Homo sapiens: one gene and its partners. The protein of the gene in region 2 purifies or fractionates together with the protein of the main gene of each other region. This does not show direct contact. Each region holds a gene or a part of one and is shown on either strand. Other genes may lie near its edges. The genes, in order: HELZ, CELA1, PRRC2A, USP54 and SMYD2.

Region 1 (3,519 bases), on a different chromosome or scaffold from region 2:
TGCACAACCCGGCCCCATTCTTCCTTCACATCTGAATAGCTTCATTGATGAGAACCCCTCGGGATTACCTATAGGGGAGGCTTTAGGTAAGTTCTATTACTGCCAGATGTGAAAATTCAGAGATTACTTAACATGACTTGGACTGTATAATATCATTTTGGGTTAAGATTGAATTGTTTCTTCAAATAATGCTAGCAAAACCCCCCCATTTAGTGTGATAATCAGAAACTAGTTCTAAATGCTGTATGATAGTATCCAGTGGATGTCAGGATCATCATTATGTAAGTGAGGAAGAGTTGTCATCATCATCACCATAACTGATTTCTGGCAAATTTAGAAAACATTTACTTCTTACCAAAACCAAATTTGTAGCTACGTCCTTTGTCTTTGTGGAGAAAATATGTTAGTAAAAAACTTTAAATAATGAACTTGAAACCCCAAATTCATAAAAAATTTTTCACAAATATTTTTGCAGATCGTATACATGGGAGTGTCGCTCTGGAAACATTAAGGCAGCAGCAGGCACGGTTCCAGCAGTGGAGCGAGCATCATGCCTTTCTCAGTCAGGGCAGCGCTCCATACCCACACCATCACCATCCTCACCTCCAGCATCTTCCTCAGCCGCCCCTGGGATTACATCAGCCGCCAGTGAGGGCAGACTGGAAGCTCACCAGCAGTGCCGAAGATGAAGTGGAGACCACATACTCAAGGTATTCCAGCGGACTGAAAATAGCCCCTGGAATGCGACCCCCTCACTGTTCTCTTTTTTGACTGTAGTCCTTTTAGCTTCAAGCTGGAATATTGCCTCAGAGAAATTGGATGCTGGCCTTCCAAGCACACGCTACACAGTTCTCTTGTTGACTCTAAAATACAGAAAACTCATTTAGAAGTAACTCTTCTACAAATTTAGGCATGGATGATCTACTATGGGTTGGAAATTAACTTGTTCCCTTACTTTGTGGTCTTTTCTGCGAGAGAAACATACCATCACTGTGAGCAGCTTTTTTTATTTAGTAGTAATACTTGCAAAGAATGAATAAAGACAGGAGTAAATTCGTGGTTAAAAGCTAAAAATTATATCATTAATTATTTTTATGGTGGCACAGAATTCTACATTCCTATAATTCCAGCTACATATGAGTATTTGGTCCTAACTCTAAGCTTGTTTTTGTGGCCAGTGTCACATGAATGCTCTGAAGTGTTTCCTAATCCCTTCTGAATAAGGTCCACCATCATGGTGACCTTTTATAACTTCCAGTTGTCAAAGCTGTATAGAGACAAGGACAGATGTTTTTAATACAATGGGAACAGAAAGAAATCAGGTAATTGAGCATATTTAATTTCTTCACCTCAGCATCTATTGAGTGTTAATGCTTACATCTGAGATGAATTAATGCCAGTTCTAGTTATTAGTACTATGATTTTGTTTGTTGAAAATACATGTGTAGTTGACTAAGCTTTCCTTAATGTGATGGAGCCTTTTGTTTTCTCCTCATATTTTATTGTTTTCATGTAGGTTTCAAGACTTAATCAGAGAACTGTCTCATCGTGATCAAAGTGAAACACGGGAACTAGCTGAAATGCCACCACCTCAATCAAGACTTTTGCAATATAGACAAGTACAGAGTAGAAGCCCACCAGCAGTCCCATCTCCCCCATCCAGTACAGACCACAGTAGCCACTTTTCTAACTTTAATGATAACAGCAGAGACATTGAAGTAGCCAGCAACCCAGCATTTCCACAGCGCCTCCCACCCCAGATATTCAACTCACCTTTCTCGTTGCCATCTGAACACCTTGCCCCTCCTCCCTTGAAATACCTGGCACCTGATGGAGCATGGACTTTTGCTAACTTGCAACAGAATCACCTAATGGGGCCAGGTTTTCCCTATGGCCTACCTCCATTGCCTCACAGGCCACCGCAGAACCCTTTTGTACAAATACAGAATCATCAACATGCTATTGGTCAAGAGCCATTTCACCCATTGTCATCTCGAACAGTATCTTCTTCTTCGCTCCCTAGCTTAGAAGAGGTAAATGTCTTCTTATTTTCCTTTTGTTATTAGCTGATTGTGAAAAATATCAGTATTTATTGATTTGATAATAGGAAGGCACAGATCTTATTGAATTTAACAGCGTATTAAAGATAATCCTTTCTTGGGAATTATTTTAATTGCCACCCTCCTATTGTATTTCAGGTTTTGTAAAGTGGACACTTTTGTTGAAACATGAAGCCCCTTAAAAGTCTTTTATTGCTGTTTAAAGAAAATATTGAATATCTGAGGACTCTATTCAAGGAGCTTTGTCTTTTTTTAATCTGAGGAAATGGCTTTTAGTGATTCTTCTTTTCGCTTTAAGTTACATGTGTTAATTATAAATTTGTTAATGAGAACTTTCCAAAGATGCTGGCTTTTCAGCCAGTGCCAGCTCCAAGTGCTGTGCTCCTTCTCCTGCCACTCAGCCTGGTGCTTTGTTAGACCCAGGGACTCTGATTCCCAAATATCAGAATTTGCAGATTTTTAACATAAAATTGACTGTGCTAAACTAAGCATTTTAAGTTAAACTGAATTTTATCTTAAAATACTTAGATATTTCTGCCGGGTGCAGTGGCTCACGCTTGTAATCCCAGCACTTGGGGAGGCCGAGGCGGGCAGATCACGAGGTCAGGAGATCGAGACCATCCTGGCTAACACGGTGAAACCCCGTCTCTACTAAAAATAGAAAAAATTAGCTGGGCGTGGTGGCGGGCGCCTGTAGTCCCAGCTACTCGGGAGGCTGAGGCAGGAGAATGGCGTGAACCCGGGAGGCTGAGCTTGCAGTGAGCCAAGATATGCCACTGCACTCCAGCGTGGGCGACAGAGCAAGACTCTGTCTCAAAAAAAAAAATAAATAAATAAAGTAAAATACTTAGATATTTCTAAAGAGCATCTTTATGGACTTTTTTTTCCTATGAAAAACTTAGTAATTCCAGGTTATAAAACTTCCAAAGCAGTACCATGTGGTGTAGGCTACAAAAATGTCTAGCTGATCCCATTAAATTTGCAGTGATTAAAGATAAAAATGTGTAAAGCCGGTTGTAGTCATATCAGACAGAGACATCTTAAATCAGGATAAAGATTTCTAATTTTGATATATGAAAAATACTTTTTTGATATTAGCTTCATTTTGGCAGTTTCAGAATGATATCTAAAGGCCATTAGAAATAATTGATTCACATTTTACAAGTTGCCTGCTATAGATGCTAATTAAAAGTCAAGATTCATAGGGAAAGCTGTATGTCTTATTTGTAGGGATTTAGAGGCAGTCTGTTCAAATTGTCCCAGTATTCATTGATTGGCTCATTCTGTATAGCTGTCATTAAAACAACTTACTGTGATTTTAGGCTCTTAAAGTAAGTTAGAAGCACAATAAAGATGAATTGGTATCTACATATATGTATTGTGAGGATCTAGAATTTTGGAACCATACTTTACAAAAATTTGGCACACATCTGACAGTCTTTCAGATTATAATGAACAG
Region 2 (3,519 bases):
ACCTAGGAGGCGGAAGTGGCAGTGAGCTGAGATCATGCCATTACACTCCAGCCTGGGCAACAAGAGCGAAACTCAGTCTCAAAAAAAAAAAAAAATTAACGGGGAGTGGGGCTACACATCTATACTCCCAGCTACTCAGGCGGCTGAGGCAGGAGAATCACCTGAACCTGGGAGGTGGTGGTTGCAGTGAGCCGAAATGGCACTACTGCACTCCAGCCTGGACGACAGAGCGAGACTCCATCTCAAAACAAACACACACAGAATTATCCCAGTTTGAAATTTTGGTCTCTTTCCCTAGTTTTTTTTAAGTTTTACTTTTGTTTGTTTGTTTTTGAGACAGAGTCTTGCTCTGTTGCCCAGGCTGGAGTACGGTAGCGTGATCTCAGCTCACTGCAACCTCCTCCTCCTGGGTTCTTGTGCCTCAGCCTCCTCAGTAGCTGGGATGACAGGCATGAGCCACCATACCTGGCTAATTTTTTTTGTATTTTTAGTAGAGTCGGGGTTTCGCTATGTTGGCCAGGCTGGTCTCAAACTCCTGGCGTCACGTGATCCACCCACCTCGGCTTCCCAAAGTGCTGGGATTACAGGTGTAAGCCACCACACCTGGCCCCAAGTTTTACTTTTTATTGAAGCTTAAATTGGCAAATAAGATTATGGGGCTCAATAATGGAAAAGAATAGCTACTCTAGTTCTCCCACCCCATGGGAGGCCACTTTCAACTCTTCAGCTGATTCTTTTGGTGTCTACATCTTTAAAATTATATACTTACACTGCTATTTTTGTGTTGACATTATGGCAGATGTGATTCTCTTTATTTTTTATATATACATACCTGCCCTCCAAGCATGACATTTTCTGATCACCATCTCAACCTCTCAAAATATTTTGGTTAGATCAACATTCGGCATTTACTATGATTATATAAAATGCTATTTACAACAAAATCATGTAATATATTCTAGGTTTACTTTTCATTTGCTGCATAACTTTTTTTTTTTTTTTTTAAAGAGACAGGATCTTACTCTGTCACCCAGGCTGGAGTGCAGTAGCACAATCACAGCTCACTGCAGCCTTGAATTTCTGGGCTCAAGAAATCCTCCCACCTCAATCTCCTGAGTAGCCAGGACTACAGGCACATGCCACCACACTCAGCTGATTTTTTAAAATTTTAATAGAGATGGGGGTCTCGGTTTGTACCCCAGGCTGGTCTCAAACTCCTGGCTTTAGCTTAAGCAGTCCTCCTGCCTCAGCCTCCCAAAGTGCTGGGATTACAGTCATAAACCACCAAGGTCAGCCCTTGCTGCACAACTTTTTCAATTTTTTCAATGTCTGTTAAAAATTGTCTTTTTCATTTGCTTAATATAGTCAGTTTTTCATTAATTCAACCCCACACACTCCACTAATTTGTTAAGTGACCTATATCATCTTCTCTTGACCTAGTGGTCTATGTGGATCTATTTGCATTCGTTGTGAGGGATACTTAATGGGTGGGTTTTCCCGGAAACTCCAGACCTTTGATCCAGAAAATGTTGTTTATTTGTTGATTTCCTCCCACTCTATTTTCACTTTTCTCTTTCTAGAATTTCTGTTATTCACATGTTTGCCTCCTAAGCTGGTCCTCTTGTTTTCTCTATATCTTGTTTGTTCTATCTTATGTTCCAACTCTTCCAGTCTCTCATTTCTAAATCTATCAAATCTGTAATTTCCAAAGGCTCTTTTTGCTGTCTGAATGTTGTTTAGTAGTATGCCGTTCTTGTATCATGGATGCATATTAGTCATGTTTTTTGTTTGTGTGTTTGTTTTGAGACGGAGTCTCGCTCTGTCGCCCAGGCTGAAGTGCAGTGGTGCAATCTCAGCTCACTACAACCTCCAGCTCCTGGGTTCAAGCGATTCTCCTGCCTCAGCCTCCTGAGTAACTGGGATTACAGGCATGTACCACCACGCCCGGCTAATTTTTGTATTTTTAATAGAGTTTTAGGGGTTTCACTGTGTTGGCCTAGTCTTGAACTCCTGACCTCAGGTGATCCGCCCGCCTCAGCCTCCCAAAGTGCTGGGATTACAGGTGTGGAGCCACCATGCCCAGCCTATTAGTTATGGTTTTATTGCTTGTTTTCTTCTCCCTGCATAGTCTTGGTTGCCTTCATTTTTTTATTTAGCTCCTTGTTTCTTTGTTTCAATCTTTATTTTTATATTAGATGAATTCCTTTTTTTTTTTTTTTTTTGAGACAGAGTCTCACTCTGTCGCCCAGGCTGGAGCCCAGTGGCGCCATCTTGGCTCACTGCAAGCTCTGCCTCCCGGGTTCACGCCATTCTCCTGCCTCAGCCTCCCGAGTAGCTGGGACTACAGGCGCCCACCACCACGCCCGGCTAATTTTTTGTATTTTTAGTAGAGATGGGGTTTCACCGTGTTAGCCAGGATGGTCTCGATCTCCTGACCTCGTGATCCGCCCGCCTCAGCCTCCCAAAGTGCTGGGATTACAGGCATGAGTCACTGGGCCCGGCTAGAGGCATTCTTTAGATGTTTAGTGATCCTTAACCATCTGCTTTTATTTCAGAGTGGGGGTGGTATTTTTACCCAGAGTGGGTGGGCTGATTGGTAGCTCTGAGCCTTAGATGGGGTTCATCAATAGTGGATTCTCTGTCAGGTGATCTGGCTAGGCCATTTTAGTGGAGGACCTCCAATGTCAGTATCTTTAGGTCTTTCCTCTTGGACTGTTCAGTTTTTCCAGAGAAGTATCTTCCCATTTTATGTGTGGCATTATGGACCTGGCATTCTAGAAGCTGAGTAAGAAGGGAGGCAAGATCATATTCCATAAACCCAGGTTCCCAGTTGAGCATGTGACCTAATACATCACTTTCCTCTTCATTCCAGTTTAGTTTAGCATGTTTTGACTACCAAGTCTAAATACTTGGTCTAATTATACCCATTGGTCTAAATGCTGGGGATAAAGAAATTATTAGAATGCCCTATTTTTGCCACCCCAGGTTCAATTTAAGCCAATAAAAGCGATTGAACTTTAGATATTTAAAGTTCTATGCTAGCATTGTGGAGAGGAAAGATCTTGGTAAGAGTTTTTGTCTCAGGAAGCTCATAGACATGTGTGAGGAGGTACAAACAAATTATGAAACCAAAATACAAGGCAGAACATGAAATAAGTGCAGCAAAAGAGAAGAAGTATTGTGGTTGTTTAGAAAGGAAGAAGAGATTCATTTTGATTGTGGGGACATGAAGGAGGTGGAGATTTGCATTGGAGCTTTAAAACCGTACAGAATTTCACAACCAGAGACGGGGGCGGGGGGAGTGCAAGCAAAAGCCCGAAGATCTGGAGTTTTAGGATTCTGTTTCTCCTCCCTGCAGGGTGACTCTGGGGGCCCCCTCCATTGCTTGGTGAATGGCAAGTATTCTGTCCATGGAGTGACCAGCTTTGTGTCCAGCCGGGGCTGTAATGTCTCCAGGAAGCCTACAGTCTTCACCCAGGTCTCTGCTTACATCTCCTGGATAAATAATGTGAGTCCTCT
Region 3 (3,519 bases), on a different chromosome or scaffold from region 2:
AAGGGATTGAGAGGGTCAGCTGTGGGAAATTGGTGTCAGCTGAGTAATTGAAGCGGTTGTGATATAGAGGAAGGGGGGTGCTAAAAATGGGCTGTGTGAAGTGCCAGGCTGCAGAACATCCTGGGAAGCTTTTAAATATCTTTGGTAATAGGGGAGTCTGGGTAAGAAGTGAGAAACTGGGATGCTAATGAGGAAAGAAGAAAAAGGAGCCCTGGGTGTTTGGGTTTCGGAAGGAGAGAGGGAACAGAAAAATAAAAAGACTAGGGTGGCTAGATAGCTGGATCTGTTAGTATGCATCAGTAGTCCAAGCTACTCAGCAGGCTGAAGCAGAAGGATCACTTGAGCCCAAGTTCAAGACCAGCCTGGGCAACATAGCAAGACGTGGTCTCAAAGAAGACCAGGATAATGAGTTTGTCACCACCCAGAGAGATCAACCCCAAAGCCTGGGTCGTTGCATCCTGCAAGTAGCGACAGTTGATTTGTTGTAAAAGAGATGATAGAAAGCATAGTAACTGATTCCCCTGGCCCTGCTGGGTCTTGCCAATTGACAGGATCGTGGGGGTCCTCCCTGCAAGCCCCCAGCACCTGAAGATGAGGATGAGGCATGGCGGCAGCGACGAAAGCAGTCGTCATCTGAGATTTCCCTGGCAGTGGAGCGGGCCCGGCGACGGCGAGAAGAAGAGGAGCGGCGCATGCAAGAAGAGCGCCGGGCAGCCTGTGCTGAGAAGCTCAAGCGACTCGATGAAAAGTTTGGGGCACCTGACAAGCGGCTCAAAGCAGAGCCTGCTGCCCCACCTGCTGCCCCTTCTACCCCAGCTCCACCACCTGCAGTCCCTAAAGAACTCCCTGCACCTCCAGCTCCACCTCCAGCATCAGCCCCAACACCAGAGACAGAACCTGAAGAGCCAGCACAGGCCCCTCCTGCCCAATCTACTCCTACTCCAGGTGTGGCTGCGGCTCCCACTCTGGTGAGTGGTGGTGGCAGTACCAGTAGCACCAGCAGTGGCAGCTTCGAAGCCAGCCCAGGTATGGAGATGGGGATAGGTACTACCAGATGTCAGATCACTGCTTCAAGGTGCTTAAAGGTGCAGGGTGGTAAGGCTGGGGATAAATGAAGTAGAAGGCAGTTGTTTTGGTTTATTGGACTATCAGTGATAGTGTTCTATCATTTGTATATCTGAAGGAGGGAAGGTTTTGTCTGGAATCTTAGGTTGTAGTCTAATACCATTTCTTGGCAGAGTACTGTAGCTCACGCCTATAATCCCAACACTTAGGGAGGCTTGGGGTGGAGGATCGCTTGAGCCTAGGGAGTTTGAGACCAGCCTGGGCAACAAAGCAAGACCCTGTCGGCCAGGCATGGTGGCTCACACTTGTAATCCCAGCACTCTGGGAGGCCGAGGCGGGCAGAACATGAGGTCAGGAGTTCAAGATCAGCCTGGCCAACATAGTGAAACCCGTCTCTACTAAAAATACAAAAATTAGCCAAGTGTGGTGGCATGTGCTTGTAGTCCCAGCTGCTTGGGAGGCTGAGGTAGTAGAATCGCTTTAACCCGGGAGGCAGAGATTTCTGTGAGCCAAGACCATGCCATTGCACTCCAGCCTGGGTGACAGAGCAAGACTCTGTCTCAAAAAAAAATCCTGTCTCACAAGAAATACATAAATAAAAATGAAAACTATTTCCTATAGGCCAAGACTGAAGAAAGTACTGTTGTTCTAATGGTTTCATAGAAAGTTAATGCCACCACCATAGGCTCATGAGAGGCCATGAAGTGCTTTAATGGGTCTTAAATGGGAGGGGCTTCAATAGAATAGATGTTGAATAGAATATTTTAGTCTTAAGGGAGCTAGAGATGAGACGTGAGATTCCTGGGGTGTTCATGGAGTGTCTATTGTTGGACTAGATCACTCTGTTGTGTTTTTTCCGATGCAGTGGAACCACAACTGCCCTCAAAAGAGGGTCCTGAACCACCAGAAGAGGTTCCTCCTCCTACCACACCCCCAGTTCCAAAGGTGGAACCCAAGGGTGATGGGATTGGTCCCACCCGCCAGCCCCCTAGTCAGGGCTTGGGCTACCCCAAATATCAGAAGTCGTTGCCTCCTCGTTTCCAGCGGCAGCAGCAGGTGAAATCAAGTTGTTTACCCTCTAAGGGCTGCTTTTCTTCCTGGCTTCGGTCCCTAATTCTCTTCATAAGTTACCTTCTGGGTCCCTTTGCTTCTTTGTCCAGTTGTCTCCATTGTCACGCCAATTTCCCCTAGTCCAAGTTTTTTCTTTGCTGATTCCTTTGTCCATGTGTGCTTTGAGCCTCTCTCATCTTGTCTTTCCTCCTTTCCTAGGAGCAGCTCCTGAAGCAGCAGCAGCAGCACCAGTGGCAGCAGCATCAACAGGGCTCTGCCCCTCCTACCCCAGTGCCCCCATCACCACCACAGCCTGTGACCCTGGGGGCTGTGCCAGCTCCACAGGCTCCACCCCCGCCCCCCAAGGCCCTGTACCCAGGTGCTCTGGGCCGGCCCCCACCCATGCCCCCAATGAACTTTGATCCCCGATGGATGATGATTCCTCCTTATGTGGACCCCCGGCTCCTCCAGGGTCGTCCCCCTCTAGACTTCTACCCTCCTGGTGTGCATCCCTCTGGTAAGGGGGCATGGGAGGAGTGAGAAACAGGAAAGTCCCCTCAGTCTTAGGCATTGGATATTAGGGTCTTACTGTGACTCTGGTACGATAGGTTTTGCCCATCATAGTGATGAGGGAAGGGCATATGCTTGGCACTGCTGAGATAGCTCTGTTGCAAAAATGGGCTTAGTTAAGAAATAAGCAGTGGTTGGCCAGGCATTGTGGCTCACGCCTGTAATCCCAGCACTTAGGGAGGCCGAGGTGGGCAGATCAACTGAGTTCAGGAGTTCGAGACCACCATGGCTAACGTGGTAAAACCCCATTTCTACTAAAAATACAAAAAAGTAGCCGGCGTGGTGGCGCTCGCCTGTAGTCCCAGCTACTCGGGAGACTGAGGCAGGAGAAACGCTTGAACCCAGGAGGTGGAGGTTGTAGTGAGCCGAGATTGTGCCATCGCACTCCAGCTTAGGCAACGAGCGAAACTCCGTCTCAAAAATGAATGAATGAATAGCACAACTCCATCTCAAAAATGAATGAATGAATGAAAGAAGCAGTGGTCCTTCATTTGCCAGGATTTATTTGGGGTGGGTTGATTCTCTTGTAGGGAATCTGAGTGGATAACCTTGTTATATAAGAGCAGGCAAGGCCCGGACCTACTGGGAACAAGAGATGGAAGAGCTGACTTGACCGCGAGGGGAGATGCTTTTTGGGCTGGAGGGCTTGTGACATGAATAGGATTATTTTTCTTTTTCTTTGGTTTCTTCAGGCCTAGTTCCCCGAGAGCGTTCAGACAGTGGGGGCTCAAGCTCAGAGCCATTTGACCGTCATGCACCTGCTATGTTACGGGAACGGGGCACTCCACCGGTGGATCCAAAGTTGGCCTGGGTAGGAGATGTCTTCACCGCCAC
Region 4 (3,519 bases), on a different chromosome or scaffold from region 2:
GCTTTGGGGAAACATCTCAGTGACTAATAGAACAAAATCCAGATTATAAAAACATATTTGAAATGGTTAATTTCTGTGTATTCCCATGAGCCCAAATCACCCTGTATTTTGTAAATGTGGCCTCATAGTTCCTTTGGCCGGGCTGCCTCTCAGGACCCCAGGTAGGACTTGCCTCCCTGTATAGCATCCTGGATTTTTGCTGTTTGGTATGAGTGATTTTCAGGCTTTGCTTACCTTCCATGTCATCTGCATGTGAGACTAGCTGATTTTGTTTCCTAATTTGCAAGTAGAATGTGATTGGAATGCGACTTCACAGGTAGTGAAGAATATTGGCAAGGGCTCCACTTAATGTTACTGTGCAACTTTGGTGAGGGTGTTTAATAAAGAGGATTAACGTTACCTATTTACCTGAGTGTGAGCTGACCATGTGCCTTTTCTTTTGTGATCCTCTGAACTACTGACTCTACTTGTGCTTGTCTTTCTGTTTATTTTTACCATTCCCTGTGTGAATAGCTAGAAATGGGAATGGAATGTTGAGTTCTTTCTGTAAGTGTTCCTGTCAGTCAAGGCAGCTTATGACTAGCTCTCTCCATTTGTTTCAGTGAACAGCCTATCCCGCTCCAAGTATTGTTAAGCCAAGAGGCCCAACTGGAATCCGGCATGGATACAGAGTTTGGGGCCAGTTCTTTCTTCCATTCACCTGCTTCCTGCCATGAGTCACACTCATCACTATCTCCAGAGTCATCTGCCCCACAGCACAGCTCCCCCAGTAGATCTGCCTTGAAGCTTCTGACTTCGGTTGAAGTAGACAACATTGAACCCTCTGCATTCCACAGGCAAGGTTTACCTAAAGCACCAGGGTGGACTGAGAAGAATTCTCATCATAGTTGGGAGCCATTGGATGCCCCAGAGGGTAAGCTGCAAGGCTCTAGGTGTGACAACAGCAGTTGCAGCAAGCTCCCTCCACAAGAAGGAAGAGGCATTGCTCAAGAACAGCTGTTCCAAGAAAAGAAGGATCCTGCTAACCCCTCCCCGGTGATGCCTGGAATAGCCACCTCTGAGAGGGGTGATGAACACAGCCTAGGCTGTAGTCCTTCAAATTCATCAGCTCAGCCCAGCCTTCCCCTGTATAGAACCTGCCACCCCATAATGCCTGTTGCTTCTTCATTTGTGCTTCACTGTCCTGATCCTGTGCAGAAAACTAACCAATGCCTCCAAGGCCAAAGCCTCAAAACTTCATTGACTTTAAAAGTGGACAGAGGCAGTGAGGAGACCTATAGGCCAGAGTTTCCCAGCACAAAGGGGCTTGTCCGTTCTCTGGCTGAGCAGTTCCAGAGGATGCAGGGTGTCTCCATGAGGGATAGTACAGGTTTCAAGGATAGAAGTTTGTCAGGTAGTCTAAGGAAGAACTCTTCCCCTTCTGATTCTAAGCCTCCTTTCTCACAGGGTCAAGAGAAAGGCCACTGGCCATGGGCAAAGCAACAATCCTCTCTGGAGGGTGGGGATAGACCACTTTCCTGGGAAGAGTCCACTGAACATTCTTCTCTTGCCTTAAACTCTGGGCTGCCTAATGGTGAAACTTCTAGCGGAGGACAGCCCAGGTTGGCAGAGCCAGACATATACCAAGAGAAGCTGTCCCAAGTGAGAGATGTTAGGTCTAAGGATCTGGGCAGCAGTACTGACTTGGGGACTTCCTTGCCTTTGGATTCCTGGGTGAATATCACAAGGTTCTGTGATTCTCAGCTTAAGCATGGGGCACCTAGGCCAGGAATGAAGTCCTCCCCTCATGATTCCCATACGTGTGTAACCTATCCAGAGAGAAATCACATCCTTTTGCATCCACATTGGAACCAAGACACAGAGCAGGAGACCTCAGAATTGGAGTCTCTGTATCAGGCCAGTCTTCAGGCTTCTCAAGCTGGCTGTTCTGGATGGGGGCAGCAGGATACCGCCTGGCACCCACTTAGCCAAACAGGTAAGAATGCAACCAGGGGTTGGGGGGAGGGGGGAGGATCATATAAAAGCTGAAAGCAGGGAAAGATCAGAAGGGAGTGTTCTATACAGATACTATCCCCAGCTTAGTAGGAGGTAATAGAACTTTTGACTTTACTCAGAAAGCCTTCAGGACAAGACCTAGACATTTTTCTGGCTAGAGTGGAGGAAGGGGCAGAATTACCACTCATAGGCAACTTCCCTCCTTCTAAAGTAAGAGATTACTAAGTATTTGCCCATGGCTTCTCCAGTATGCTGTGCTAAAGAATGGTTCAGGGCCGGGCACGGTGGCTCACTCCTGTAATCCCAGCACTTTGGGAGGTCGAGGCGGGCAGATCACAAGGTCAGGAGATCGAGACCATCCTGGCCAACATAGTGAAACCCCTTCTCTACTAAAAATACAGAAAATTAGCCGGGCGTGGTGGTACTTGCCTGTAGTCCCAGCTACTCGGGAGGCTGAGGCAGGGAAATCACTTGAATTCGGGAGGCAGAGGTTACAGTGAGCTGAGATCGCACCACTGCACTCCAACCTGGGTAACAGAATGAGACTCCGTTTCAAAAAAAAAAAAAAAAAAAGAATGGTTCATAGGTGTTTGAGAGTGATTCAGCATGACAGCATGAAATGGAGGGAGGCTGAGAGGAAAATATATTCTTCTATGGCTTAGAATCCCAAGATTCAGCCTCCAGGTCTGCTTTGCAGTAGGATGTCCATATGCTCAGTGTGGACATTTCCAGATCATACTGAACCAGCAATATCAAGACCTTCCTGATCCCTTTAGGAAAAGTCAAGTTTGGTGTTCAAGGAATTTTTAATGTACTATATGCCTACAGGGTAGCCACTGACTGAGATAATACAGAGTGAAGAGTAGAGCCTGCACCTGAAGTGCACATCATAGTCAGTTCTGGAAATTGAAGACATGAAGAATGTTTGTAACTTACATTGATGCACTTAACTCCAAAGCCTGAACTATTTTCCTGATTCCAACATTAACTCTCAGTATAAATTTGGACAAGTCACTTAATATCCCAGGGCCAAGGTTTTACCTGTAAAATGAGAGAACTGGCTTTTTTTTTAAAAAAAGATATGTTCTAACTCTAAAATGGCATGTATGATTCTGTGAAATTGAACTTGGAGAACTTTTCCTTAGCTTGGCTGTGACAGTTTCTGTAATGGTGCAGGTTCCTTGCATGCTGACAACCAACATATAATTACAGTTGAGTAAGTGTTTATTGAGTACTTACTGTGTTCTCCAGAGCCTTTGAGGGGAATACCACATAAATATAAGATTTGATTTTTTATTCATTTTTTTTTTTTTCTGAGAAGAGTTGCACTCCTGTTGCCCAGGCTGGAGTGCAATGGCGTGATCTCAGCTCACTGCAACCTCCGCCTCCCGGGTTCAAGTGATTCTCCTGCCTCAGCCTCCCAAGTAGCTGAGATTACAGGCGTCCACCACCACACCTGGCTAACTCTTGTATTTTTAGTAGAGACAGGGTTTCACCACGTTGGCCAGGCTGGTCTTGAACTCC
Region 5 (3,519 bases), on a different chromosome or scaffold from region 2:
GTTCTCAACCTTGGGTTCCCCAGAATTAATGATGGGGTCTGGGATTAGTTTTCAGTATTTTTCAAAACCTAATGGAAATAATATAATATACCTACACAGGTAAACCTTCTTCAAAAAAGAGCCTTTTCTCACTCCAAAGTCTTAGGCACTTTAATATTCTTTTAATAAGAAAAAACAAATATTTATAGAGAGAAATGGAAGAAAACAGAATTTTCCACATTGCAAGGATATCAGGGTTCCTTCTGCCTTTTACTTTCAGCACAATTGTTTCAACAGCAGCAAGGAGCCATCCTTTAAGACTTCAAATGTGCCAGTAACTCACGTTATTTTTCATATGCGGGGAACATAATTTCTGTTATAGCTTATAGGGGCTCAGTGACCAAGCTGCACGTTTGGAACCGATTTCAGATGAAAGAGACAGAATAACAGCAGGATATCCTGAAGTGAAATTCAAACCCTGGTGAGTTAAAACCACCATCTAACACCTTTCCCTCCCGAAGCAATTGCACAGAATCCTCTCAATCAAAAAAAATTCGAAGAACCTGTATAAAATGGCATTTCTTTAAATCATATTGCTCTTTGCAGCCCATAAAGCATTTCCAGATACATTCTTATTTTGATCCTTCCAAGGATGGCTGGTATACACAGGGCCTTATTCCATTTTACATAGAAAGAAACTGAGTGTTAGAGAAGTTAAGTGGTTTCTCTGAATTTCACACCTTTTTTGTCAAATATTTATTGAGTGCCTCTTAAAGGCCGGACTCCATGACCTTCAAGGATGGAGCCAAATCTCCCTGTTCCTCGTGTGATCTTCCTGTGCCCCCCTTTGGCCTGAACCTACTGTGTGGTTCACCCAGGGACTTCACCCTACATTACTACTGTGTGGTTCCCTGGAGACTGGGGGCTTAATCCGTCTCTGATATCTCCTTGATTGAATAGAATTTATAATTGGCCAACAATTTAACAAACGAATGCATTGTTTAAAGAATTATTTAAAGTTTTAAAAAATGTTTGATTCAGCCATCTTAGATCTATATTTTATGCTGATATGGACTTAAACATGTTGTTTTTATTATAATGCTTTGAAATTTGCATAAGAGCTACACATATTCTTTTATATGTATGAATTATTATGTAATAAAACATAAAAAGAACATGAGGCTTTGGTCCTTTTGTAGGCTTGGAATATTTTTAATATTACGCTAGGACTAAACCAGAGTTAGTCATCTCAGCCTTTATACCTACATATAAAGAGTTTGTTTCTGTGCCGTGTGATAGGGCAGCATCAGCCCATAGTCTTTTTTTTTTTTTTTTCCTTAAGCAAATCCATTCTTCAGGATCTCTCTCTGCAGAAGTTAAATCTCTTGAGTTGTGGAAATGGAATTTATGGTGCAGCTATAGGAGGCAGCCCCTGGTTGGTATTCCTGTAGAACAGGCAAGTTGCACACCACCTGTGAGAAGGTTCTTGTAAAAATATGTTAAATTTCTTTGAGAAGATCCAGGGCTCACTGCTATAGTTTGGCAGGAACCTGGTCTTTGGGAGAACTCAGAATTGGTGAGAATTCAGGACAGCAAAATTGTCTCTTTTAGGATTTGATATAGTGAGAGAATTGCAAAGGAAGTTTCTACTGTATTTGGGTGTTTTAGGCTTACTGCTTTGAACTTAGGTTAATATTCCCTCCTCTTTTCCCTGTCAGTATAAAAATATGAAATAATTACTGTTTTATGCCACTTTATTTCTGTCCTCGAAGGAAGCAATCAATAATTAAAAGCATGCTTTGTCTTCCTGGAGTCATGAATAATTAAATTGACTCCCCCCATCCACACACATCTTTTTTTGGACCTCAGATGTAGTTGAGGTAATCATACTTCTGAGTTCAAGGCATGCTTTTATCTGGTATATGCAAGGCAAATTTGATTTTTCAGAATGTTCCCTCTCATTTCCTGCTCTTCTCACAGACAGCTCCTCTATGGGTTTGGTTACGTATCTTTGAATACATGTGTATGTGTGTCCTGATGATCACTAGGGAACTAGACACACCTAGAACAAGGCACCCTGATTTTACTTGGCAGATTCAGACCTTGAGCTCTCTTCTGATCCTCCTGCTCACTCAGCGTTTTTCTGTGGCTGTGTCAGGGCAGGGGCCCCTGCACTGGCCCCTTCCTCCTGATGAGTGGCCTGTTCTGACACTTGAGGGAGGCAGGGCATTTTGAGGTCTCCTTTGCCTCTCAGGAACTTGCATTGTTAGCCCACCCACATCCCCAACCTTCACTTCTTTGGATTTCTAGGAAATCTGCAGTAGTTTAGGGGTGCAGTCCTTTGGCAGGGAATTAACTGAAGTACCTGCCTTTTCAGGGGTTGAACCCATGACCTTGGCCTCATTAGAGCTCTAACCAGTCACAAAGCACACACCTCACTTTGTGTAACTTCTGCTGACTTGTTCCTGCCACCCTCCGCGGCTTCCTATTCAATTGCAAAGGCGTTCACACCAACACAATAGAACAGAAGGAAATCAGATCTCTTCAAGACTTCTCTGAAGGACAGAAATATGCAATTTAGCAGGAAAATAATACAAAAAAGTCTTGAAGGTTCAGGAAACAACTTATCTTTCTAGTCCGTACATTCGCTGAGAATCCAGCTGTGTCTCTCAGATTCTTTTTCAATCAAAAATTTAAAAATAGCGTGGAACTCCTTGTGTTAATTTATTAACATAAAATCTAGCGACTCTTGTACATGAAGTGGAAGGTTTCGGATGACTAAGTGGAAATATTGTATGTATGTTATTAAAATGGATTGGGTTAGCTTTTATAGAAAAAGTGGATCTGAGAATTCATAAGTGCTTATCTTTGGCAAGTTTATAGTCCCTAGAGATAAAAATGAATGCGTGCTATAATAACAAAGACACTGTTGTGTCTTAGTGAGTGCACTGTGATGCTCAGGGTGTGTTGGTGCCCAGGGGACGCGGAGTCACCATGGAGGAGAGGAGAAACAAGGACAACTCCCTAGAGAAGTGAAATTCACACAGGGCTTGAAGACCTGAATGTATCTTGGGGGAGGGACGTGGTAAGATAATCTGGCTGTCCAAAAAGATACAGGTTTTTATTAGAGCCAAATAAAAAGCTCAAGGATTTTATGTCTTGGCACTTGGAAGGAGTTATGTTGAAATCTGTGTTCTGTTTAATCTGAGTACCAAGAAAGACTCTTCAGGGATGTAGGTACTGGCTCATATTTTTGATGAGATGGGGATTTTTCTTACTCTGGTGATGTTTGGATAGGAAACATTTGCTCATTTGCCACCTGAAAAATCTCTTCTCTGTCAATTCCGTGAATCCATGGTACAGTGACAGTTGCTGTTCACAGTGATAGCCTCATATGCTCTTAAAACCTCACCAATAAGACACATTTAATTATGAGCCAATAGTATACTCCCTAAGGGTAGGAATTCTACTTTTTAACTCAATCAAAAACATTTGTATTTGTGGACACTTAGTGGGTTCTATAGTTCTGGAAAACAACTC

Evidence for each region.
Region 1: the proteins of CELA1 (region 2) and HELZ purify together in Homo sapiens (affinity purification with mass spectrometry; 2 studies listed by BioGRID and IntAct, with this or other methods). This does not show direct contact.
Region 3: the proteins of CELA1 (region 2) and PRRC2A purify together in Homo sapiens (affinity purification with mass spectrometry; one large-scale study listed by BioGRID and IntAct). This does not show direct contact.
Region 4: the proteins of CELA1 (region 2) and USP54 purify together in Homo sapiens (affinity purification with mass spectrometry; 2 studies listed by BioGRID and IntAct, with this or other methods). This does not show direct contact.
Region 5: the proteins of CELA1 (region 2) and SMYD2 purify together in Homo sapiens (affinity purification with mass spectrometry; 2 studies listed by BioGRID and IntAct, with this or other methods). This does not show direct contact.

Annotation. Positions count from the first base shown.
Region 1 is NC_000017.11:67,105,683-67,109,201, reverse strand, and holds part of HELZ (probable helicase with zinc finger domain), read left to right. Parts: coding exon 1-86; intron 87-475; coding exon 476-710; intron 711-1,516; coding exon 1,517-2,033; intron 2,034-3,519. UniProt on the Homo sapiens protein: May act as a helicase that plays a role in RNA metabolism in multiple tissues and organs within the developing embryo.
Region 2 is NC_000012.12:51,329,673-51,333,191, reverse strand, and holds part of CELA1 (chymotrypsin-like elastase family member 1), read left to right. Parts: intron 1-3,358; coding exon 3,359-3,508; intron 3,509-3,519. UniProt on the Homo sapiens protein: Serine proteases that hydrolyze many proteins in addition to elastin.
Region 3 is NC_000006.12:31,627,214-31,630,732, forward strand, and holds part of PRRC2A (protein PRRC2A), read left to right. Parts: intron 1-551; coding exon 552-1,026; intron 1,027-1,930; coding exon 1,931-2,121; intron 2,122-2,334; coding exon 2,335-2,632; intron 2,633-3,377; coding exon 3,378-3,519. UniProt on the Homo sapiens protein: May play a role in the regulation of pre-mRNA splicing.
Region 4 is NC_000010.11:73,514,831-73,518,349, reverse strand, and holds part of USP54 (ubiquitin carboxyl-terminal hydrolase 54), read left to right. Parts: intron 1-602; coding exon 603-1,975; intron 1,976-3,519.
Region 5 is NC_000001.11:214,287,641-214,291,159, forward strand, and holds part of SMYD2 (N-lysine methyltransferase SMYD2), read left to right. Parts: intron 1-3,519. UniProt on the Homo sapiens protein: Protein-lysine N-methyltransferase that methylates both histones and non-histone proteins, including p53/TP53 and RB1. Specifically trimethylates histone H3 'Lys-4' (H3K4me3) in vivo. The activity requires interaction with HSP90alpha.